7 linked regions of the Homo sapiens genome follow. The gene in region 6 interacts genetically with the main gene of each other region. Each region holds a gene or a part of one and is shown on either strand. Other genes may lie near its edges. The genes, in order: HNRNPU, YBX1, CNOT9, PRKAA1, SEC31A, GBF1 and ATP2B1.

The links.
Region 1: changes in GBF1 (region 6) and HNRNPU together harm fitness less than expected from each alone (positive genetic interaction), as found in Homo sapiens cells (one study listed by BioGRID).
Region 2: changes in GBF1 (region 6) and YBX1 together harm fitness more than expected from each alone (negative genetic interaction), as found in Homo sapiens cells (one study listed by BioGRID).
Region 3: changes in GBF1 (region 6) and CNOT9 together harm fitness more than expected from each alone (negative genetic interaction), as found in Homo sapiens cells (one study listed by BioGRID).
Region 4: changes in GBF1 (region 6) and PRKAA1 together harm fitness more than expected from each alone (negative genetic interaction), as found in Homo sapiens cells (one study listed by BioGRID).
Region 5: changes in GBF1 (region 6) and SEC31A together harm fitness less than expected from each alone (positive genetic interaction), as found in Homo sapiens cells (one study listed by BioGRID).
Region 7: changes in GBF1 (region 6) and ATP2B1 together harm fitness more than expected from each alone (negative genetic interaction), as found in Homo sapiens cells (one study listed by BioGRID).

Annotation. Positions count from the first base shown.
Region 1 is NC_000001.11:244,854,544-244,858,043, forward strand, and holds part of HNRNPU (heterogeneous nuclear ribonucleoprotein U), read right to left. Parts: coding exon 3,468-3,500; intron 3,175-3,467; coding exon 3,055-3,174; intron 2,314-3,054; coding exon 2,185-2,313; intron 2,083-2,184; coding exon 1,914-2,082; intron 1,616-1,913; coding exon 1,361-1,615; intron 1,066-1,360; coding exon 881-1,065; intron 502-880; coding exon 430-501; intron 1-429. UniProt on the Homo sapiens protein: DNA- and RNA-binding protein involved in several cellular processes such as nuclear chromatin organization, telomere-length regulation, transcription, mRNA alternative splicing and stability, Xist-mediated transcriptional silencing and mitotic cell progression.
Region 2 is NC_000001.11:42,692,418-42,695,917, forward strand, and holds part of YBX1 (Y-box-binding protein 1), read left to right. Parts: intron 1-1,072; coding exon 1,073-1,106; intron 1,107-3,500. UniProt on the Homo sapiens protein: DNA- and RNA-binding protein involved in various processes, such as translational repression, RNA stabilization, mRNA splicing, DNA repair and transcription regulation.
Region 3 is NC_000002.12:218,578,839-218,582,338, reverse strand, and holds part of CNOT9 (CCR4-NOT transcription complex subunit 9), read right to left. Parts: intron 1,779-3,500; coding exon 1,599-1,778; intron 1,330-1,598; exon of another isoform or gene 1,270-1,329; coding exon of another isoform or gene 1,225-1,269; intron 1-1,224. UniProt on the Homo sapiens protein: Component of the CCR4-NOT complex which is one of the major cellular mRNA deadenylases and is linked to various cellular processes including bulk mRNA degradation, miRNA-mediated repression, translational repression during translational initiation and general transcription regulation.
Region 4 is NC_000005.10:40,788,375-40,791,874, forward strand, and holds part of PRKAA1 (5'-AMP-activated protein kinase catalytic subunit alpha-1), read right to left. Parts: intron 1,831-3,500; exon of another isoform or gene 1,697-1,830; intron 1,660-1,696; exon of another isoform or gene 1,578-1,659; intron 1-1,577. UniProt on the Homo sapiens protein: Catalytic subunit of AMP-activated protein kinase (AMPK), an energy sensor protein kinase that plays a key role in regulating cellular energy metabolism.
Region 5 is NC_000004.12:82,818,154-82,821,653, forward strand, and holds the end of SEC31A (protein transport protein Sec31A), read right to left. Parts: intron 2,956-3,500; coding exon 2,884-2,955; intron 1,101-2,883; coding exon 921-1,100; 3' UTR 356-920; downstream 1-355. UniProt on the Homo sapiens protein: Component of the coat protein complex II (COPII) which promotes the formation of transport vesicles from the endoplasmic reticulum (ER).
Region 6 is NC_000010.11:102,364,032-102,367,531, reverse strand, and holds part of GBF1 (Golgi-specific brefeldin A-resistance guanine nucleotide exchange factor 1), read right to left. Parts: intron 2,136-3,500; coding exon 1,933-2,135; intron 1,150-1,932; coding exon 1,026-1,149; intron 448-1,025; coding exon 322-447; intron 55-321; coding exon 1-54. UniProt on the Homo sapiens protein: Guanine-nucleotide exchange factor (GEF) for members of the Arf family of small GTPases involved in trafficking in the early secretory pathway; its GEF activity initiates the coating of nascent vesicles via the localized generation of activated ARFs through replacement of GDP with GTP.
Region 7 is NC_000012.12:89,590,694-89,593,838, forward strand, and holds part of ATP2B1 (plasma membrane calcium-transporting ATPase 1), read right to left. Parts: intron 603-3,145; coding exon 291-602; 3' UTR 1-290. UniProt on the Homo sapiens protein: Catalyzes the hydrolysis of ATP coupled with the transport of calcium from the cytoplasm to the extracellular space thereby maintaining intracellular calcium homeostasis.

The sequences.
Region 1 (3,500 bases), on a different chromosome or scaffold from region 6:
AAGCCACTCAAACTGTTTTTAGGAAATGACAATGAATCTAATTCAGAGTAATTTGCTGGAAACAAATTTATACCTGTCATACCTCTGATTTCTACCAAACCAGATTTAGTTTTAATATCCCATAATTATCAATACACATTACAAAACGAAACATCATGACTTTGTTAGTTTACACAATTAAAGCTAGCAGTAAAAGAACTGTATATATTAAATAATATTACTTTATTAAAAAAATTTAACTTATAGCAATCTTCAACCTATTTTGCCTTCAAAAGGTAGATTATGGCTACTACTGCAAGACGATTCACACTTTACCCTATTAACACTTATAAACACTTCAATCCCTGAACAAGATCTTTTTCAAGACTGATAAATCTTAGGAACTCAAAATACAATTAATGTACATAAAGCACATAAGAAATTACTTACACCCTGCTGCCACTGGTTGTAGCCCTGAGATTGATTTTTGTAGCCACGATTGTTTCCTCGTCCTCTGAAGTTCTACAAAAAGGAAATACTCTCTAAGAGCTCTGAGCCCAATTGCTTGTTAGGTTTGTGGGGGTGAGAGAGAGGAGCAGAAATGGACAGGTTGCTAGCCCCTAATCTTAGGTAGCAAGCAATACACAAATTCTGGATACCCTCTGCTGGTTTCTTATGTTTTAATTTTTTATTCATTATGAGAAATGCATCTGACTTGTTTAGTACACCTGAAAAAACTCAAAAGTAAGTAGACTCATTTCACCATTACTAGTTCAATTTTCCTTATGTCAATGCCTATCATGTTCCTTACGGATTACTAAGACACCCCAACATAAAGCTCACACCTTTCCAGACTAAGCTACAGTTATCAATCATGCTTCCAGGGATCTTGAATCATTACCTGGTTGTAGTTCCCTCTGTTGGGCATTCCACCTCTGTTGTAGTTCCCTCTGTTTGAGTAACTACCACGGCCAGGAAAAACAGGGGCACGAGGGTATGGATAGCCGATTCCACCACTTCCTCCACCGCCACCACCTCTCTGTGGCATGTTGCCCCTCCTATTATATCCGCCACGATTCCCAGGGGCTAAAAGACAAGAGCTGTTTTAGTTTCATTGTATATTGTACCCTACTTATACAGAAGACTTAGGATTCCTCTAGATTGTTCCTTTTTCTCCAAAAATAATTGTTTAAAGACAAAAGAAATGTTTAATTCTAACCATTAACATAACCTAGGTGTATTTAATATCAAATCACATGAATACTTTAGTTACTGTGACAGTATACCATTAATGAGGAAGAAACTTCAGCTACATCCAAACTATAAAATTATCACTTGTTTCGATCCTGAACTAAATACAGAACACTCAAAATTAACTTGCCTCCTCCTCTGAAATTTCCACCACGCATATTGAATCCTCCACGTCCTCTATGGCCACCACCTCTGTTAAACTGGTTCTTGCCACTCTTATTTTTATTGCTTTTCTTTGAGCCAGTGTTCTGTTTCTTTTCTGGTGGAAGAGCCTTTTTGCTTTCTTCCTTATATTGCTCCAAGAGTTTTTGGGCTTCTTCCTTCTGAAGTTCAACATAGGTTATTTCATCAAAGCACTCAGCTACCTCTGGGAGGGTAAAGTTTCCTGCAGGAAACAAAGTCATATTATTAATTTAGAAACCCACCACGAATCCTCACAATCCTAAAGCTGACAATTCTTGAGGTTTAGTAACATATTTTCCTAAAAATAAAAACAGACCAAACATATATGCATATGTAACAACTGCAATTTTAATTCCTGAAGCAGTATTGCTGGAAAAAATGTTAACTTTCAGGAGGCCTAAGTCCTAATAGATTTAACATAGTTACACAAGCAGAATATGTAGGAAAAACATTCTTTTAAAAAGAAGATTTCACACAGTAACAGAATTAAAATTCCATGCCTTTCATTTTGAGGACCGCATGTTCTGGTAGGTCTTTCCCCTCTACTTCTGCTTTCTTCTGTGTTCTTTGCTTATAGTCTTCATCTTTTGGGCAAACTACAACAGCTTTTCGCTGGAAGCCTGCAAACAGGCACATTTTTCTCCTCTGGGCAGCAGCAGACACATTTGTCTTTAAAAAAAGAAATTTATGTTTACAACCCTAAACATTAATTCTACACCAATCTATCTAAATTATCAGTTAATATTTTTCAATTTCAAAGCTACAGCGTACCTGATCCAGAATAAAATTTCGCTTCTTTCGGGCAGCAATCTCAATAAATTTCCCAAGACACTGGGGGGCTCTCTGCAACAGTGTGTTCAGTTTTCCAGTATCTGCCATTTGCTTCTTAAAACCTGCCACCTATATTCAAAAGTTAAAATTTCCCCTTGAACTTGTGAATTTTAATAAGTTATGCTTTTTAAAATTCAACTCATATCTATATGTAAAGCAGGCAACATTTTATAATTTAAATATTACCTTTGTCCATTATTGCTACAAAAACAGGGTCACTTAAACTATGTAACAAGACCTTACACTTACTCAATTCTTTTTAGCTGCTAGATGTTAAGAGCTCAAAAACACTACGGAAAAAAACAGAAGCCTAGCCAGTGGAAGGCAGTTTACCCTCAGAGTTGAAAGAACCAACTTAATCTTGCCTTTCCTCCCATCTCTTTAAGATACTAACAAAATGGATAGAGACAAAGACAAAAAGTTTACCTAGAATACCTCCCGGTCTATAATTTTTCTTTTCTTTTTTTTTTTTTTCTGAGACGGAGTGTTGCTCTGTCGCCCAGACTGGAGTACAATGGCACGATCTCAACTCACTGCAACCTCTGCCTCCCAGGTTCAAGTAATTGTCCCTGCCTCAACCTCCCGAGCAGCTGGGATTACAGGAACCCACTACCACACCCAGCTAATTTTTAAATTTTTAGTAGGAACGGGGCTTCGCCATGTTGGCCAGGTGGGTCTCAAACTCCTGACCTCAGGTGATCCATCCACCTCAGCCTCTCAAAATGCTGAGATTACAGGCGTGAACCACCATGCCCAGCCTCTCCCAGTCTATTTTAAACACTGAGATCAGGCCCTAAACATTTTACTTACCATCATCTTATCCATAATAGTATTTGTGCCAAGAATGTTATATTTCCCTGGATTTTCTGCTGCATGTTTAGTAACCCAGGTAGTTTTTCCAGCTCCTGGCAAGCCAATCATCATCACAACCTAGTGAAAAGAAAAGAAATGTCATTTCACTGTCAGTAGACACCACCTAATAATTCTTTAAATATTGTTAAGGCCAATTTAAATATCTAAGTTTTCATAGCCCTTACACTAACGGACAAAAATTTGTTTATGGAAAGATTAACAGTCAACATAAGGGGGAAACAATTACTTAAGAGCAATATGCACAGCACAAAGTAAATGAAACAGACTAATCATCTAGTTCTTCTAAATGTCATTTTGTGCCAGGCAAGCAATATTCAAATGCCACAGTTAAAAAAAAAAAAATCCCTTACTTCACAATCTTTCTTCTCTTCAGGCCCCTTTGG
Region 2 (3,500 bases), on a different chromosome or scaffold from region 6:
CCTTAAGTCGCTTTTACAGTTTACCTGTTCTGTTTTTTTAATTATCCTGTTCCCATCAATTAAAAATGTTCTTATAATAATCCAAGCTATAATTTACAGGTCAGATTTAAAGTTAATTTTATGTGGATCCTTTGATGCATATGTTGCCCCCAGTTCAGCAAGAAGCTAACAGTCAGTAAGCCAGTTTGTCCAGTTCATTGTAACCTTTGTTCCCTTTGTCATTAAACGCTAGAGCTACTACTGAGCTTTTTCTCACTCTGACCTGACGGAGTAAAGAGGGTGAGGCAGGCCACTGCAGGCCTGGAAATCCGTTTCCTTCTCCAGTGGTGATTCTTGCTCCTCGTGTTATCACCTTAATCCCAATATCCAGGCTAAAAAGTGAGATTATTCTCTACCCCCTCGCTTCTGACATCCAGTCATCCACAAAGTTTCTCATTTTGCCTCAAAAAGAGATCTCAAATGTCTTTTTATACATGGCTCCGTGGTCTAAACCTTCATCAGTCCTTGTCTGGACTTGTGGAGTAGCTTTTATAACTGGGCTTTTCTTACATTCAAACATACCTTATCACCCAAAGGTCACAGTTCCCATTAGGTTTCACTCTTTGCGTTATACATTCTGTTGGTGGGGAGGGGGGTTCTCATTTTTATGATCTCAAGGAAAGTTGGTAGTTGGGAGATGCAGGATAAGGTGAGAATGTAACTACTACTTCTGTTGGTAACCATGCTCTAGAGGTAAGAGGAGGGTGTGCTAGAACAGTTAATGTTTAATAGGATAAGGAGGGGCAGAATATATTTTGCTAGTCATTGCTACCCTCTTAATTATGGCTCAGTAGGTCACACTTTAATTTCTTAGACTTTTTTTTTTTTTTGCCTATCTTACGGGTAATGAGGCTACAACTGTTTGCAACTGCTGAAGTCTTGAAAGCAGAGAGCATGGTGGCTTGTGTTTTTTGATTTTTGCCAAATTTCCTGGTACCTAATTGGCAGCCAGAGAGTCTCTGGGAAAATTAATCTTTGACAACATGAGATTTATTTCATTTTCTAACTTGTTCAACTTGGTTCTGTCTTGCAGGAATGACACCAAGGAAGATGTATTTGTACACCAGGTGAGTGCTTGTGTAGATATTTGCACTTCTGATTCAAGGATTGTAAGAAGAAAAGGTTAGATATGTTCTCAGCTTTTGTTCCTTATAAAAGGTTAAGTCCAACCACCAGTTTATTTACTTACGACAGGAGTAGTAGCATGCTTAAAAATGTATACGTGGAAATGTGTTAGAGTTGACTTAATTATCCTAGACATTTCAAATTGGAATTTTGTCAACAGCTGTGGCTTTCTCAAATGTTGAGTCAAACTCACTGCATTAAATATTTATACCTAATTTCAGATGAACAGATTATTCCATGATTCTAAAGTTGAACAAATAATGTTGCTATAAATACACAGAAACTTTGGCAAGAAGTTTTCAAAGGCTTTTAGGTGTACCTGTAGGGACAAATCTCCATAATCAAGGGTAAATAAGACAGACCTGCAAAACATAGTAATTGAAGTGAGTACTTGAAAAGTAGCATAAAGAGCCTTCTGCTTACTTTAAATCACTTTGAATGGGTATTGGGTTTTTTTTTTTTTTAAACCTTTGGAGAGTTTTGGCTGGCTTGGAAAATGAAAAAATTTCACTAGTTTAAGGTTAAGTGGGGGGAAGTGTGACAAGGTTGGCAGCTGCTCATTAAATAATTTTTAGATTGGCTTCCAGTGATTTGGGAAGAGAAAACTGTTAACATAGGATGAGTACTGATGAGTACTGCATAGTGAACTTTCTCCCTAAGTATCATTTAGGGAAAATGTTTGCACATTCAGGAATTAAGATTATTACTAATGTAAACCACTGCCAAGTGTATGTTAATACTTCAAATTTAGATATGCTGTAGGCTACATTGAATGTACTTATCCTCACAGATACGAAATGAGTAGGAAAAAATATGTTTGTGCTATCAGTTTTCTCACTAAGGCTTTTGAAATATTGTCAACTTGTATTAAAATTAGAGACCATAACTACTTTTTTGTACTATAATCCAGAAATCAAAAGACCTAAAAGTTAATATCCATACTCACATTTAATTAGATACTAGCTTTTATGGCAGCATGTTTCATAGGAAGGGCTGTCATAGGTTGGTGCTTTGTAGCTCACTGAAGTGTCCTACACAGTATTTGATGACAAGGAGGAAGCTATATCAATTTCTAGTACACCCAAACCCAATCAGGTAGTTCAGGGTCAAATGTAATTATGGAATCATTTAAATTCTAAATGTAAATAAATACAGGACTACTTCAGACAAAATGTTGTTTTAAAGTAGATGTTTTATAAAATTGGTATTCTTGTTTGGAAGAACACAGCTCAACTGTTCCTTACTCCCCTTCTGCATGTTCAAAAGAATGTGTAGACTTAGGAACAAGAGACAGCAAAGTTTCTCGGTCTTGTTGCCTGTTGGCAACCCTTAAGGGTTGGGGTTGGGGCAGGGGTGGAGATGTTGATAAAAATAAAGAGTTGGGATTTTAATTATCCATAATTCTGCTATCCCCTATGACTGCAGGTAATTGATAGTTGGCTATATCTGAAAGGTATGAAAACTATGTGACAGTTTAGATGACAGATGAGATCAATTATTTGACTCAACTCACCCAGTTGTACTGATTCACAAGGTGCCACCAATATGCTTTCATTTTTTTGGAAGTGGTTTCAACATGTAGTTGTTTCTTGGGACTTTGGCTGCTCAGGTCTTAGTGGTGTATCAGGGAGACTGCAGTTCTGGGCAGCTTCACTTAATTGGCCTCAGATTCGTTGATTGTCCTGTCTCCTCTGCAATGGAAATGCATGAGTGATCCTGTAATGGATATAGCTGAGATTTGGAGTGAACATGGGATTTGGAGACCCAATACCTGGGTTTAGAAAGTCTCCTTACTAACTGTGTGACCTTGGGCAAGTCACCTAACTTTAAAGCCTGTTACATTATCTGTGTAATGGGATTAACAATACTTTCACATGTCCTGTCTCATAATGAGATTGAATAGATAGTAAGTGAAAGAATGTTGCAAAAAAATTTCATAGAAACGTGAGATGTTACTCTTCCTCCCTTCTCTTAACAGTCTGGAGAAAGTAGAAGCAACAAGTCTCTAATACAAGATTTATTGAATTCTGGGGAGGTGATAACTAACAATTCCATGCAGTCAGATCATATAAAGAATGACATAGTTAATACACATGAATTGCATTTCCACTGATGTATTATCAGATTGGAAGGGATTTTGGTTGACATTTGTAATTGAGTTTGATACGGTAACACAGGGGCAAAGTTGGTTTGGTCAGCTTTGAAGCATGCAAAACCAAACTCGCCTGTCATCTAAACTGACGCAGTGTGGGGCCACCTTCTCCTATTAAGTGCAGTCCTCAGGGGATAGATGGATATCCTCATTTGTTAAAAGTTATATATAATGCTTTTGCAAA
Region 3 (3,500 bases), on a different chromosome or scaffold from region 6:
TCAGTTGAGGGATACTCAAATTTTTATAATTTTGCTAGCATCCTGCTTTAAGTTACAGTGATGAGATCACTGGCCAGAAAGTGTTAAGTCAACCACGGTGACTCATAAAGAAGTTTGAATTTGGTTAGGTAGTAACATGGTAAGGACATGAATCAATGGGTGGGGATATGTATAAACAGCAGTGAATATATGCACTATCTGTCAAAAAGTAATGATTTACTCAATACAATTCCATTTACATTTTTTTTCTTTTTTTTTGAGACAGGGTCTCACTCTGTCATCCAGGCAGAGTGCAGTGGCATGATCATGGCTCACTGCAGCCTCCACCTCCTGGGCTCAATTGATCCTCCTACTTCAGCTTCCCAAGTAGCTGGGATTACAGGAGTGTACCACCAAGCCTGGCTAATTTTTGTATTTTTTGTAGAAATGGTGTTTCGCCATGTTGCCCAGGTTGGTCTCAAACTCCTGGGCTCAAGCAATCCTCCTAACTCAGTCTGCCAAACTGCTGGGATTACAAGCATGACCCACTGCACCTGGCTACAATTTTCCATTTACATTATTTGTAAAACTTTTACATAGAAAAACGTTCCCATAACAAAGATCAGTTTCTTGGCTAAATGCAATAGAGATGGAATGTGAATTTACTTAAGAGTTGAAAAGTTAATCTAATTGTTAGGAATTTGGGGCAATACTTTAATGGATGATCATGCCACTACCTAGGTATTTTGGTATTGTTATTGTACCATATCAGTTAATTAGCCACCAGTGACCATTCTGGTTTGAACTGAACTTCAGTTATCTATTCTTTAATGTACAAGTGTACCCACCTTTAATACTACAGCTGTTATACCTTCAACATTTCCTTTCCAGGCCAGGCATGGTGGCTCATGCCTGTAATCTCAACATTTTGGGAGGCCAAGGTGGGTGGATCACGAGGTCAGGAGTTCAAGATCAGCCTGACCAACATGGTGAAACTCCGTATCTACTAAAAATTAAAAAAAAAAAAGCCAGGCATGGTGATGCAGGCCTATAATCCCAGCTACTCAGGAGGCTGAGGCAGGAGAACCACTTCAACCCGGGAGGCAGAGGTTGCAGTGAGCCGGGATTGCACCATTGCACTCTAGTCTGGGCGACAGAGCGAGATTCCGTCTCAAAAAAAAAAAAAAAAGAAAAACAAACAAAAAAACCCAAAAACCCATTTCTTTTCCATAGAATATATTGTACCTTGTGGTCCTTATACTCTACTTTCCACCTTCCTCCCCCTGTCATGTAGATTTATCTTACAGTACTCCTAAAGCGGTGTTCGTCAAAGCGTAGTTCTTAGATCACTTGCATCACAATCACCTGGGGGAGGTGAAAGTGCTTATTAAAATATAGATTATAGGGCCCACCTCAGACTGACTAAATTGAATCTCTTGGGTAAGGATCCAAGAATCTGCATTTTAACAAATACCTCAGACCTTTCTAAAACAGATTCTTACAAATGCAGTTTTTTAAAGAATCATCCTCCTAAAGTCTTCAAATCATTTGGGCAAAGGTAAAGAAATATACAAGTGTAATGAAAAGAACTGAACTGCCAATCATGGACATGAACCCACCTGTAAAAGTGCTGCAATAGTACCAAATGAATGCCACAGCATGGGTGCAAGGTCAGGAACAGATTCTCGCTTCTTACTTAGCTCCAGCAAAGCATTTTCCCTAGTCTCAGGACTGGACAGCTCATTGATCCACTGATAGATCTTTTCTCTATCCACTTGTGCCAGTGTAGTAGGCACAGGCTTCAGATGAAGACAAGAAAGTAAATATCAGTTTATTAGAGTCAAACCAAGTCTTACCCTGCAACAGAGTTTTAGAGGAAATATATTTTTCATGAATACCAGGGGAGCGTTTCTAAATACATACATTTGATGTCAACTATTCAATCTCTTTGGTAGTTACTGATGAAAATCTAAAATGCACACATACCCTTTGATAATTCCATGTTTAGGAATTTATCCTGTAGGTATAATTGGGCTGTGCTAAAGACATACCAGGATGTTTACTGTTGCACTGTTTTAAAAGCAGAAAAGTGGCCGGGCGCGGTGGCACACCCCTGTAATCCCAGCGCTGTGGGAGGCCATGTTGGGTGGGTCACTTGAGGTCAGGAGTTTGAGACCAGCCTGGCCAACATGGCGAAACCCCGTCTCTACTAAAAATACAAAATTTAGCTGGGTGTGGTGATGGGCGCCTGTAATCCCAGCTACTCAGGAGGCTGAGACAGGAGAATTGCTTGAACTTGGGAGGTGGAGGTTGCAGTGACCCGAGATAGCGCCACTGCACTCCAGCCTGGGCGACAGAGCAAAAAAAAAAAAAAAAAGCCAGGTGTGGTGGTGCATGCCTGTAGTCCCAGCTACTCAGGAGGCTGAGGCACTAGAATCGCTTGAGCATGGGAGGTGGAAGTTATAGTGAGCTGAGATTGCACCATTGCACTCCAGCTTGGGCGACAGAGTGAGACTCTGTCTCAATAAACAAACAAACAAATAAATAAATAAATAAATAAATGCAGAAAACTGGGCCAGGCGTGGTGGCTCATGCCTGTAATCCCAGCACTTTGGGAGGCCAAGGCAGGTGGATCATGAAGTCAGGAGATTGAGACCATCCTGGCTAACACGGTGAAACTGGTGTCTCTACTAAAAATACAAAAAATTAGCTGGGCGTGGTGGCAGGCGCCTGTAGTCCCAGCTACTCTGGAGGCTGAGGCAGGAGAATGGTGTGAACCCAGGAGGCGGAGGTTGCAGTGAGCCGAGATCGCGCCACTGCACTCCAGCCTGGGTGACAGTGTGAGACTCCGTCTCAAAAACAAAAATGCAGAAAACAAACAAGTATCTCTCACTAAGAGACTGGTTAAATATTGGTGCAGCTTTATAATGTGATACTATGTAGTCCTTTAAAAAAAGAAGCAGCTCTCTATATACTGTATATTGATACTAAGTAAAAACAATAAAAGGGTTACAGAAGAGCATATAAAATGTTTCCATTAATATACACACATATAAAAATAAAAAATACATATACATTCTTACACATTTACATATAACATTTCTAGAAGGACACATAAAGAACTGTTAACTGTAGTTACCTCTAAGGTTGGGGATTTACAGGGAGACTTACTTTTCATTGTTTACACTAAAACCTTTTGCATAAACTTTTTTTAAAAAACCATATGCATATAATAGTTTTTGAGAGGAAAAAAAATTATGCCTTCCCAATACTGGTCCCTCCCCAGTGATTCTGACATCCCCCCTCAACTGAGCAGAAAACCTGTAATTTGGAAAAGCTCTCCCTCTTAATGATTCTTCAGTATATTCTCTAACTACATCCCTTTGAGAACCATTCATTACTTACTCATGTAGGAAATACATACTTAATAGGGCATGCTTTCATTATTATGCTAAAGAATCACAATATTCCCCCCAAATTTGAATATTTTATAATTCTCTATAGTCATCAAATATGTTTGT
Region 4 (3,500 bases), on a different chromosome or scaffold from region 6:
GGATTAAATTTAGGACCTGAAATTACAAATCTACTAGAAGAAAACTTAGGCGAGAAGCTCCATGACACAGGTTTGGGCAATCATTTCTTGTATATGATCCCCTAATGCACAGGCAACAAAAGCAATAATAAACAAATGGGATGACATCAAACTAAAAAGCTTCTGAACAGCAAAAAACAAACAAACAGGCCAGACGCGTAATCCCAACACTTTGGCAGGCCGAGGCAGGCGGATCACAAGGTCAGGAGTTCGAGACCAGCCTGACCAACATGGTGAAGCCCTATCTCTACTAAAAATACAAAATTAGCTGAGCGTAGTGGTGCACACCTGTAGTCCCAGCTACTCATGAGGCTGAGGCAAAAGAATCGCTTGAACCCGGGAGGCGGACGCTGCAGTGAGCCAAGATCACGCCATTGCACTCCAGCCTGGGTGACAGAGGGAGACTGCATCTCAAAAAAACAAACAAACAAGCAAAAACAAATAGAGTGAAGAGACAACCCAAAGACTGAGAAAACGTATTTACAAATCATGCATCAGATATATAGCTAATATCCGGCCAGGCATGGTGGCTCATGCCTGTAATCTCAGCACTTTGGGAGGCCGACGCGGGTGGATCACTTGAGCCCAAGAATACAAGACCAGTCTAAGCAACACAGTGAGACCTTGTCTCTATAAAACATACATAAATTAGCCAGGCGTGGTGGTGTATGCCTGTAGTCCCAGCTACTTGGGAGGCAGAGGTGGGAGGATCGCTTGAGCCCAGGAGGTCAAGGCTGCAGTGAGCCATGATCATGCCACTGCACTCCAGCCTGGGCAACAGAGTGAGACACTGTCTCAAAAATAAAAATAAAAAAAAAGACAAACAAATGGCCAACAGATAGATGAAAGAATGCTGAACATCTCTAATCATAAGAGAAATGCAAATTAAAGCCACAATAAGGTATCACCTCACACCTGTTAGACTGGCTATTATCAAAAAGGTGAAAGATAAGTGTTAGCAAGGTCACAGAGAAATGGAACACTTATACACTGCTGGTGAAACTATAAATACAGCCATTTTGTAAAACAGTGTAGAGGTTCCTCACAAAACTAAAAATAGAATTACTATATGATCCAGCAATCCCATTACTGAGTATATATCCAAAGGAATTGAAATCAGTATGTCAGAGGTGTCTGAGACTCACTTATATTTGGAATCTAAAAAAGTCAAACTCACAGAAGTAGAGAGTAGAATGGTGATTACCAGTAGCTGGGGTAAGTGGGGCTGGAGGGGAAAAGGAAGATATTGGTCAATGGCTACATAAAATTACAGTCAGGAGGAACAGGATCCTGGTGTTGTATTGCATAGCATCATGATTACAGTAAATATATTAATTTTTCAAAAGAGTTAAAAAAGGGAACTTTAAATGTTCTCACCACAAAGAAATGATAAATATTTGAGGAGATGGATATACTACTTGGCCTGATTTGATCAGTGCAGAATGTATACATGTATCAAAACATCACATTGTGCCCCATAAATATATACAATTGTTATTTATTAAAGATAGATTTTCTTTTTTATTTACTTATGGTAGGAATGGCCTTCATTGGTTGCAATAGGAAGCGAAAGAGGAGACCTGAAATCAAATGAAAAAGCGTAAGCATCCTGGGGAGAAGCCCACTGGATCTCAGTTCTGCCCTGCTCAGGAAAGTTCAGTATCCAGGTGACTGAGAACAGAACCGGCTGGCACCAAAGACATGATTTTGAGGGGGCCGGAGCCCTTTCCCTTTGCCTCCATACATAACAGGAGCAGGACCACACACTCAGTCCCTGACAAGAAAAGGAGGGTGGATTTTCTAAACTATGATATTCACCATTAAAATTAACAAGTTAACAGAAGTAATATTTTTTGAAAACAGGTTTTCTAATTGTACTACACATGATCATGACTTCTTAAATGGAACACATGTACATGAAGACTGGGAACCAAACAAATGTTAACTTATGAGTATCAACTGCTCCTTATACCCTCACACAGTGACAGCAGTGGGAGTTATTTAGCAGGATAGGGCTTTTTGCTCCCAGCCTATAGTGTTCCAGCTCGTGTGGTTTTCCGCTTTTTGAATTTGTATCCCAGCCTTCATAGTCTATCAGGAGTCAACTCTTTCTTTTTTTTTTTTTTTGTTGTTGTTGTTGTTGTTGAGATGGAGCCTCGCTCTGTCGCCAGGCTGGAGTGCAGTGGCACAATCTCGGCTCACTGCAACCTCTGCCTCCGGGGTTCAAGCAATTCTCCTGCCTCAGCCTCCCGAGTAGCTGGGACAACAGGCGCATGCCACCACACCCAGCTGATTTTTGTATTTTTAGTAGAGATGGGGTTTCACCATGTTGGCCAGGATGGTCTCAATATCTTGAGCTCGTGATCTGCCCGCCTTAGCCTCCCAAAAGTGCTGGGATTACAGGCGTGAGCCACCACACCCGGCCTTCAGTAGCATAATACTTTTTAAAATATGGCATCTAATAGCTTAGGAGACACTCACATTATCACATTTGAGCATAAACCTATGATGGAGGTATTGTCTTTTACAGATAAAGAAACTGAGGCTCTAAGAGATTCTGTAAGTTGTGGAAGTAAAGCTATTGTGATCAAGTTGGGACAGGTCTTCCGACTCCCAAGTCTTTTGACCTATCCACTCTCCCCACCATCACTGTGCAGTGAGAGGGACAAAGGGCTTGGCATGGTATCAGAAACTAAACTGTTTTCTCAAAACCAGGCTAAATATTCTCCCCAGTGAGTAAACTCAGTTGTAGCCAAACTAAATGCTGTTCCATAGTCAATCAATGAATGTAGTAAATGGACTCTGTCAGGCATATGCACTACTAAGGGATTCCCCCCTTTTTCAAAATTCAAACTTTATTCTTCAGACTGTCAGTTTTTAGAATAGTGCTAAGGTTTTGCTTTTAAATGAAACGGAAGACAGATATTTTGGCCACGGAAGACTTGCACATTACTCAGAGCAAATATTACCAGCATTCACAATGTCCCCCTCACAAGAATAGCAGATTAGTCAACTAAATATTAGCTAACAACCATGCTATTGCTATCTAAAGGGAACTTTGTCTAACTGCATAACATTGTAACAAATGCTCTTCTAATTAGATATATAATCCTGAAGGGAAACAAGATCATACTTTGAAACAGAGGATTTTAATAGGACAGAGAAGCAGCAAAGATAGAAATATCTACTAAAGATATTCTAGACACCTAACCATTTCATTCCCACTTTAAAATTGAAAGAATAAAAACGTGTTAAGGAAATAGCTTAATCCTGGGGAAGGGTGGGCTTTAAAAGCTATAGATCGTAATTTAAGAAAGCAAACAAACATTTCAAGCACACCAAGGGCATTCCAAATACCCATGAGCCACCATCAGCTTAAGCAATAAAACATTACAAATACAACTCAAGCCCTGCATGACTCCTCCCAGATTCCCTTATCCTTCATCTGTCCTCAGAAGTAA
Region 5 (3,500 bases), on a different chromosome or scaffold from region 6:
CCCGGGTTCAAGCAATTCTCCTGCCTCAGCCACCCAAGTAGCTGGGATTATAGGCATGCGCCACCACGCCCGGCTAATTCTGTACTTTTAGTAGAGACAGGGTTTCTCCATGTTGGCCAGTCTGGTCTCGAACTCCCGACCTCTGCCTGCTTCGGCCTCTCAAAGTGCTGGGATTACAAGCGTGAGCCACCATGCCTGGCACAGCTATAGGTAATTTAAACAAAATAGGTGAAAAAATTTCTAGCTATAAAATGGACACAATTTAGTCTTAAAACTCAAACAGAATATTGAAACATTTACAAATAGAAAAAAGCTCAATGCATTCTACAGAACAAAAATGTCCAGTCTTTTCCTATATAGTTAAAGCCAGTGATCCCATTTTTATTAATATCTGCTAAAACCCATGTAGCAGTTTGTAGATGTAGTTATTTACTCAGGAATCCTAAGACACAAAAAATAAACTAAATTTTAAGCAGCTGTTTCAAAAAAGACTATACACACATAAAATAGGATTACACACTTTAATCTGATTGACACTGAGGAAGTAGGGAGGACATGAAAGAAATTTAGTTTTAGCTCTGCTTTATGCATAACCAGATGCTCCTTTTCTAAAAAGTATATTGAGGTTTTAAAAAACACATTTATCAGAATACTTCAGGAAACCATACTATGTGTAATCCAGGAAATACACTATTTGCAGAATAGGAAAATCATCACTGGCAACAAAAGATTAAAACAAAAATAAAGCACCAGGGTTCTGAGCAGTTCTAAGGTGAGTATATCAGCAGAAATAGTGTAAATGCTCTTGACTGGTTGCTATGCAAACATGCTAATGAGGACTAGTCCATGTCTTATAATTTTTTTTTTTAACATGTTTCTTTGGAAAAATGGCAATATTGAGTGGAAGAGAAGCTGTCCTTTTAGACACCCAGCTTATTGGCCTGGGTGAGAACAACTTTGAGAACTGGCATGAAAGCAGAGGTCTCACTGAAGTTGCTGGTGCTAACTATGTGGGTATGCATGGTCAATCCTTCTGAGTAGTTTCGAGTTTCAATGCTCCTTGCAATGTTGTGTAAACCACTGGTGATTGTTGGTGAAAGCTGAAACAAAAGTGAACCAAGAGAAAGAATTAAATTAAGGGATAACTTCCCATGAGATCCTCCATAAACATTAAACCCAGATATTTAAGTGGAATTTGAAACAAACATTATAAAAATATATAAACCATTTAGCATTTCTAGAAAGTTTCTTGAACCAAGCAACAGTTATCAAGTACAACCACAACAAAATGATTTACATAAATAAGTTATTTATGAATTATACATGTATAAGCCAGGTATTTTCTTACAGAAAAGCAGCCCGATTTCCTCTCCAAACTGAAATGCTAATTTCTCTCTCCACTTAAGAGAGCTTCAGACCTTTAAAAAATTCTCCTATGCACAAAAAGGAGATTAAAGATTCTTAATCATAATATCTCAAAGGAAGGGCCCAAATTTACTAATTCTTACCTGCTTTTTATAATCCTGTCATCTCTTAAAACTATAAAACCTGTAGTTTTTTACTATGTCATTACTTGGCATAGGTGTCCATACTTTACAGAAGACTTTATTTGGATTTTTTTTTTTTGAGATGGAGTCTCACTCTGTCACCCAGGCTGGAGTACAGTGGTGCGATCTCGACTCACTGCAACCTCCGCCTCCCGGGTTCAAGCGATTCTCCTGCCTCAGCCTCCTGAGTAGCTAGGACTACAGCCGTGTGCCACCATGCCCAGCTAATTTTTGTATTTTTAGTAGAGACGGGGTTTTGCCATGTTGGCCAGGCTGGTCTCAAACTCCTGACCTCAGGTGATCTGCCCGCCTCAGCCTCCCAAAGTGCTGGGATTACAGGCGTGAGCCACCATGCCTGGCCTATTTTGATCTCATTTTTAAAAAATGTTTTAATATATACTCATCTAGATGTATACGCTAATTGTATCTTCTGTTTTTTTTTTTTTTTTTTGGAAATGCGGTCTTGCTATGTTGCCCAGGCTGGTCTCAAACTCCTGGGCTCCAGTGATCCTCCCGCATCAGCCTCCTCAGTAGCTGGGATTACAGGCATATCCCACTGTGCCCACCGAGAAGACTTTATTTTGGATCAGTCCAAGGACCACACTACTTCCACTGTTATATCAACTTTCTTTAGTTTGGTTCTCATGAGAGAAATGGTTATTTTCATCTGATGGAACTGAGTGTGGGGAATGGGTTAGAGGAATGCTGAAATGGAAAAAATAAAAAGAAAGTCCCACTTCTTTTTTTCTTCTCCTTTCCTAGTGCTTTCATTAATAAAACAAGACAATTTTAGAAAAGAATGGTGAGGTGGGGACAAGAGAACAAACGTAGTGAACTGACTTCTTACTCCTGGCTATCTTCATAGTTACAGCACATTACCCTATTCATCTTGTGGCTACATTTGGCTTTGCTTTTGTATAATGGCTATCCTAAAAGAAAAGGGTCAAGAGTCTTAGACTATGATAAAGATTATAGATTTAGTCCCTGGAAAACAGAGTATCTGCATACTCTTTGATTTCTTGTAACTGGGCCATATAAAAGGAACAGCAGAAGGTCAGCTACCTTATGGCCAACACAGGCCAGTTTGTATTTATACTCTTGTTATGAGAGGGTTAAAATGTCTCTCTCAACACACCCACACAAACACACACACACACACCCGTATCCCCTTAACCCCAGTGAGTGGAATTTATGATTCAACACAGCCATGCCCATTCTCTAAATGTCATGACAATTTTGCCCCCATGCATACTAAATGGGAGTGCTGATAAGACAACTGTTTTACTAGCAACTAGGAATAAATGATTATCATAAATCCTTTTCCTCCAAAACTTACTGTCTGTTCCCTAAGTTTATCATACAGAAACTCCAAACGTTTGCTGGCATCATCTAGCTTCCTCTTGGTTTGCTGCAGGAAAGAAAAAATAGATGTTATATTTGAACATTAACTTTTAACCTAAGAACTTGCCCTATCTCATTGCACTAAACCTTATACTTAAAATGTTGAATGGCTTCATTTTATAAAGAAATGGAGGCAACTACAACTAAGAAACTTGAACAGATTATGGCCGGGCGTGGTGGCTCACGCCTGTAATCCCAGCACTTTGGGAGACCAAGGCAGGCAAATCATGAGGTCAGGAGTTTGAGACCAGCCTGGTCAACATGGTGAAACCCTGTCTCTACTAAAAATACAAAAAATTTGCTGGGCGTAGTGGCAGGCGCCTGTAATCCCAGCTAGTCGGAAGGCTGAGGCAGGAGAATTGCTTGAACCCAGGAGGTGGAGGTTGCAGTGAGCCGAGATCACGCCACTGCACTCCAGGCCCAGGCGACAGTGCAAGACTCCGTCTCAAAAAAAAAAAAAAAAAAAAAAGAAACTTGAACAGATTATTAGAACAGAGATCAATCATCTATCAAGGGTGGAGGGTGGAGGGGACTGGGATGAGGAGAGGATGA
Region 6 (3,500 bases):
GTCTTGCTCAAAGTCCTTGCCTCCATTCACACCTTTCAGATTTTTGCGAAACTCCTAGAGACAGGCCAGTAAGTTTTTTCCCCTTGTGTCAACACTGAAGCCCCACCTAAGGAACTCCTGGGTTTTCAGTAAATAGGACTTAGGAAAAGGTAAGCGAAAAAACCCACTTCCCCACCCCAGTCCCTTTTCTAGGTTGGCCAGCCCTTCCTGATTCCCTTGGACAGAACCCCATCCATCATGCCCACTGGAAATCCTATGTCCTTCCTGCTACCTCCCAAGCTGTGCTGGGTCTTCTTTGCCTTGACTGGGACCCAAGCTTACCTCCAGGGTCATGGGTGCATTCTGTTTACGAACATTGTGGTTGTGCTGGTCAGTATTAAGCATGATGACAGCATAGGCCAGGGAAAAGCAGGCATCGCTATTGGCAAATGGGGAGCCATTACAATTCTGAAAAAGCAAAGATCCCGCCTGTGTCAATGCCCTTCTCTGGCCAATTAAACCCTCACTACCAACCCACTGGTCAGTGCTAGTACAGAGGAGAGGTACCATCCAGAAAGTGGCCAGTCTCTTGCCAACTCCTTAACAGAAGCTGATCTCTTTGTGGAAAGGTCACTAATTTTGCTCTCTGACTTTTTAAGAGACAGCAGGCTGGGTGCGGTGGTTCACGCTTGTAATCCCAGCACTCAGGGAGGCCGAGGTGGGCGGATCACCCGAGATCAGGAGTTCGAGACCAGCCTGACCAACATGGCAAAACCCATCTCTACTAAAAATACAAAAATTAGCCAGGCTTGGTGGCAGGTGCCTGAAATCCCAGCTACTCAGGAGGCTAAGGCAGGAGAATTGCTTGAACCCGGGGGGTGGAGGTTGCAGTGTGCTGAGACTGCGCTACTGCACTCCAGCCTGGGTGACAGAGCGAGACTCTGTCTCAAAAAAAAAAAAAAAAAAAAGAGACAGCAGCTGGATTCTTCAGCCCTCAGTCAAACTGACCTTGGATCCTGGGCTCAGCCCCTGACACTCAAACTCACCATCCAACGCTCTGTGAATGCCTCCAGCAACCTCTGGATGACTGGTGCTTCCCCAGGCAAACGGAAGGCTTCCAGGTAGAGGCGGAGGGCTTCGTCCAGTCGCAGACCCTGAAAACTGAAGGTGCTATAGGGAAAGAAAGGAAGAAGAGGCTGAAAATGTGTAAGCTGCACATGTCAGGCTCTTTTAGTCACTGTCCTCCTAACCTACTCTTACTGGAAGAGAGGAGGCTGAGGTCTCTAGTAAAGGGGCAGTATCTCCTGTTCATCCCTAACACAACCCCTAGCCTTAATACTTTTCACATCCACGGACTCTTGCCTAGAACCCTCACCCCCTGGAACCCTGCTCTACCCCTTTGGAATGGACTCCATGCAGAATGGAGGGGGCTCCCCAAACTATCTCGTTGGAGTCCCTTTCAGGTCCAATAGATATAAATGATGGGTAGAGGAAGAACATTGGCTAGGGTCTCCAGAAGAAATTTATAGAGACCGCTTTGAGGTAGGGATGTTCTGTCCCTTTAAACTGATCACTAACCATGTCCCACCTTTTTTTTTTTTGAGCCAAGGTCTCACTCTATCACAGCTCTATCACAGTGGCATGATCTCACTCTATCTCACTCTATCTCACTCTATCACAGTGGCATGATCACAGCTCACTGCAGCCTCGAACTCCCAGACTCAAGTGATCTTCCTGCCTCAGCCTCCTGAACAGCTGGGACTACAGGCACATGCCACCATGCCCAGCTAATTTTTGTATTTTTTGTAGAGACAGGGTTTCACCATGTTGCCCAGGCTGGTCTTGAACTCCTGAGCTCGAGTGATCTGCCTGCCTCAGCCTCCCAAAGTGTCAGGATTACAGGCATGAGCCACCATACCTGGCTATATCCCACATTTCTTACAGCTTCCTCACCTCACAAAGCTCTCCAACAGGTCAATGTTTTTGCGGTCACTCACAAACTCTCCAATCATCTTCTTGTCCAGCCGAGGGTTCTCTCGGAGCCACTGAGCAACCTCTGTGTTGTCCATTGGGATGGTGAGGAGGCCTTTCTCTTGCAGAAACTGAATCCCCTTCTTTGGTTTCTGATTGAACTGCTCTGTGCCAGTGATTAGCAGCTGCATGAGAAAAACTAGAGGTATAGAAGCTACTTTGCCTCTAAATTAGACAAGGCCAGCCTGGAGTCCACCATAGCCCACCCACAGTTGGTCAGCTAAAAAGCTCCTAGGATGTGGTTCTTAGTGATTACAGAACTAAGGCTAGATCATAATGGCCTTAGCTTCCCCCATCTTCATGTCTAATTGAATTGGCTTACGAGCTCTTTTTTACTCCTTTCCTGAGTGCTCAAGATACATAAAACAGTTCCTCTTCTCTAACTTAGGATTGGGGGAAAAGTAGAAGAAAGAAACTAGGTAATTCTTCTCTCCAGTTTTATATCCATCCCTGACATTTGTTGATAGCCAGCCTCTTGTTTTTAGCCTAGCTTAGCTTCTTTGGTTGCCTAGCTTAATGCCCTGGGTTTGAAAGACAAAGTGGACTAACTGTGGAGGCAACTCATATTTCTGTATGTCCAGTCACGGCCAGGTACTCAAGGGCACACATGAACCAAAGTCATTTAAGCTGGCAATAAGAGAAAGAAAGGGTTAGGTTTTTTTTTTCTTTTTCCGAGATGGAGTTTCACTCTGTTGCCCAGGCTGGAGTGCAGTGGCGTGATCTCAGCTCACTGCAACCTCTGCCTCCCAGGTTCAACTGATTCTCCTGCCTCAGTCTCCCGAGTAGCTGGGATTACAGGCATGCACCACCATGCCCAGCTAATTTTTGTATTTTTAGTAGAGACGGGGTTTCATCGTGTTAGCCAGGCTGGTCTCAAACTCCTGACCTCAGGTGATCTGCCCACCTCGATCTCCCAAAGTGCTGGGATTACAGGCGTGAGCCACTGCGCCCGGCCAGAAAGGGTTAGGTTTTCTTTGTGTTAAGAAACCCAAAGTACAGGCCAGACATGGTGGCTCACGACTGTAATCCCAGCACTTTGGGAGGCCAAGGTGGGCAGATCACGAGGTCAGGAGATCAAGACCACCCTGGCTAACACGGTGAAACCCCGTCTCTACTAAAAATACAAAAAATTAGCCAGGCATGGTGGCACACGCCTGTAGTCCCAGCTACTTGGGAGCCTGAGGCAGAAGAATTGCTTGAACCCGGTAGGTGGAGGTTGCAGTGAGCTGAGATCATGCCACTGCACTCCAGCCTAGGCAACAGAGAGAGACTCCGTCTGAAAAAAAAAAAAAAAAAAAAAAAAAGAAATCCAAAGTACAAACAGTTATTTGAACCTTACTATTTGAACCTTACTAAAGCACCAGAATGAATATCAATTTCCCTTTATTGCCAATCATCTTGCAAGAGCTGGAGATGACAGTAACCTTCAATGACCCACAAGACACCAACTCCCAAGGCTCCTGTCACTGCCACTAGTGACACTTGGCTCT
Region 7 (3,145 bases), on a different chromosome or scaffold from region 6:
AATACACTGTTCAGGACCATGCTTGGGTACTACTGATGATCCACAGGTCACTTACGCTGAGTTACTGTTTATCTGTCAGTTCATTTCTCCCACCCCCCAAAAAGCACCCTCAGTCTGGCAGAAAGCTTTGCTTTTTTTTTTTTAAAAAAATAAATCTACATTCGTACAAGTGTGTCTTCTGTTGAAGTCCAAAGACAAGAATACTAGCTTGTCCATCACAATATGTGAAAAGACCCAGTTTCAATTTGTTTCTTTACAATGCAGCTAGTGTGTTAACATTCAGCTTACAATCAGAGTGATGTTTCCAAACTATGTAGTGGGCTTCCTGGGGATGAAGAGGTAGCAGACTTGTTCATTTCTATTGTAAGGTGAATTCCACTGTCAACAGCATTGTTATTTTTGTTGGGAGAGGGTGGAGGACTGGAGTTACGTTTTGTAGGAGCATCATCTTCGGCATCAGTGTCATCAATAAGGGGGATATGAGGCTCTGAATCTTCTATCCTAAACTCAGGATGTGTCATAAAGTTGTGAATCGAACTTCTTGATTCCGGTTTTTCTAACCCTTCATATAAAGAACTACGAAATGCATTCACCACTCGAATCTGTAAATATCAGAAAATACAGAAATATGTCAGTACACTATTAACAACTTAAAAATGGTTCATTTATGAGTTTGAATCCACAAACAGCTAGGTATGAGTGAATCATATTTGCATGTAATGCAGTGGAACTTGCAATACACTGTAAAAAAATGAATATTTTAGTAAGACACTACAGAACAACAAAACCACATACTCTAAGAATTAAGAGGTAAAGAATTCAAAGTAATATTAAGAAAATCTCATTGTCATTGGCTAAAAATTTAATAGCCATTTTATAGGATTTTTTCCCTAAAAGAACAAATCAAACACAAAACAAAACAAAAACTTAACCATACACAAGCTTAGCTGATTTTTTAAATTAAAAAGAATGTATTTTGAAAACAACTCAAATAAGTTAAACAAAATCAAGCACAAAGGGTTACTATTTATCATGCTAGGAATTAGGGTGTCACCGACCATGAAAAAGCCAAGCAAATATAAGCTGAATGCCACAATGAACTCACATCTACCCCACTACTCCCTTAATTAAAAACAAAAATAAGAACAAAACCCAAATAAATGTCTATAAAATGCCATTAAACAGCTATAAATATTTGAGTATATGCCATTTGTCTATCATTTGTCTATAAAGTTTTAGTGTTTTTCTCTGTAACAGATTAAAACTTAAATCAATTACTACAGTTATCTGGAAAGAATAGATCAAAAACAAAAACAAATCCTCTGGGATTCTTCTGTGAAAAATTTCCCAAGAAGACACAAAGTGTTAAAAGTTTTCTAGTATTTTCACCCCTAAGCAGATAGCTCAACAATTCATCTTCCTCTCAGTCTGCTGTATAAATGAAAAAGATTAGTGGGCAATCAAACTTAAAAACATCAGTGCACACACTGACATTAAGTGCTATTAACTCAAGCGTCATTCAGATTTAGAAAAAAAAGGACAAAATCCAACTAGTTGAGCATTTACTATGTATCAATTCAAATACAGTGTTTGCTTTTGCTTTGATTCTAATAAATCCTGTTTAGTAATAAAGACATCATTTACTCATTGTTAAGAGAAATAAATAACACTTTGACATTCTAGAAAAAAGATGCGGTCACCAAATTCATCTCTTTAGACAGCAATAATGAATAATACATTTCTTCAAATGAACATGTGAATGTGTTTAAAAAAATGTAATGTAGAGTTTAGGGCCATGCACCCACATCTCACCTTCAAGTTGTCTTTCCTTATTTGCCAAGCCCTATTTGTAAGCTGCTTTTAGTCCATATTCACTTAGCCCTTTATATAGAGAGTACAGCATAGTCAACTGAGAAATACAAAAGCAAAATGTCTGGGTGTAAATTCCAGCTCTGCCACTTACTACCTGAGGAACCTCGGTCAAACAGGTTTCTTCAACTATAAAATGGGAAATAGCAATGGTACTTGCCTTACGGGGTTGTTGTGGGAGATTAAATTCGTTAGCACACTACAAACTTAAAACAATGTTAGGTCACAAGTATCGAGGCCAGGGCTTCTCGAACTTTAATGTGCATACAAATTAGTTGGGGATCTTGTTAAAATGCAGATTCTGATTCAGCAGGGGCCTAAAGTCCTGCATTTCTAACAACCTCCAAGGTGATGCTAAAGCTGCTGGTCCATGATCCACACTTGGAGCAGCAAGCATCTATTCTATTAATGTCTTGCAGCTTTACCATCTTTTATAATTCCATTCTATTTGATTGCTTGTACTTCAGTTCCTTAATTTGACTGATGAATAGCAGCAAATATTTTTCAACTTCTTTTATTGCTCTTGTTCCTCTTCCCCTTTACTAAGATGTAAAGTGTTCTACATATGGAATGTAAACAATGTTTGCTAAATATAACGTTATAGTAATTCATTCAGTGTTTTATTGTGAAGTCTTAAAATTCACATTTTATACATGTGAACATTCAGCAAGTATCCTGACTGTCCTAATAACAAACTGTAAAGCTTAAAATGCAAAAAGATAACTTTCTAAAAAAAAATTTGTTGGTATCAGCAGCCCGTAGGCACGGAGGAGAATACAAATTAGAGGATCAGCCAGCAAACTTGATGGGTGATGAGAACTGTTCAAGACAACCCTGAAGATGTTGCTTATTTGATAAGGTTGCTGGTGCTGCTGCTACTGAAGATAGAACAACAGTTAAGCTTTCTGTGTATGTGTGTGTTTTCCATCTGTTTTTCTTTGTAATCAGTCGGTATAAAAGTGAGCAGTGAAGAATCGGGGGGAAATAAATGTACTTTTTAAACATGTTAAATTTGGAAAATATCTAGAGCTCAGAAGAAAAGTGTAAACTTAAGTTAGAGATTTGAGAGTTAGTGAAGCTCTAAGAGGGGCAGAGTGTAAAGGTGAGGGCAACAAGTATATGTGCACACACAATCACACACATACACCGGTGGCAGGCAAAGAAAGATTAAATCCCTTCTTAGCAAAACTTCAATTCTGAGAAGATTTTTCCTATCTGAATTTGTTGAACAATATTAGAGATTTTTTTTTTCTAACCACTTCATAAATAATAAAAC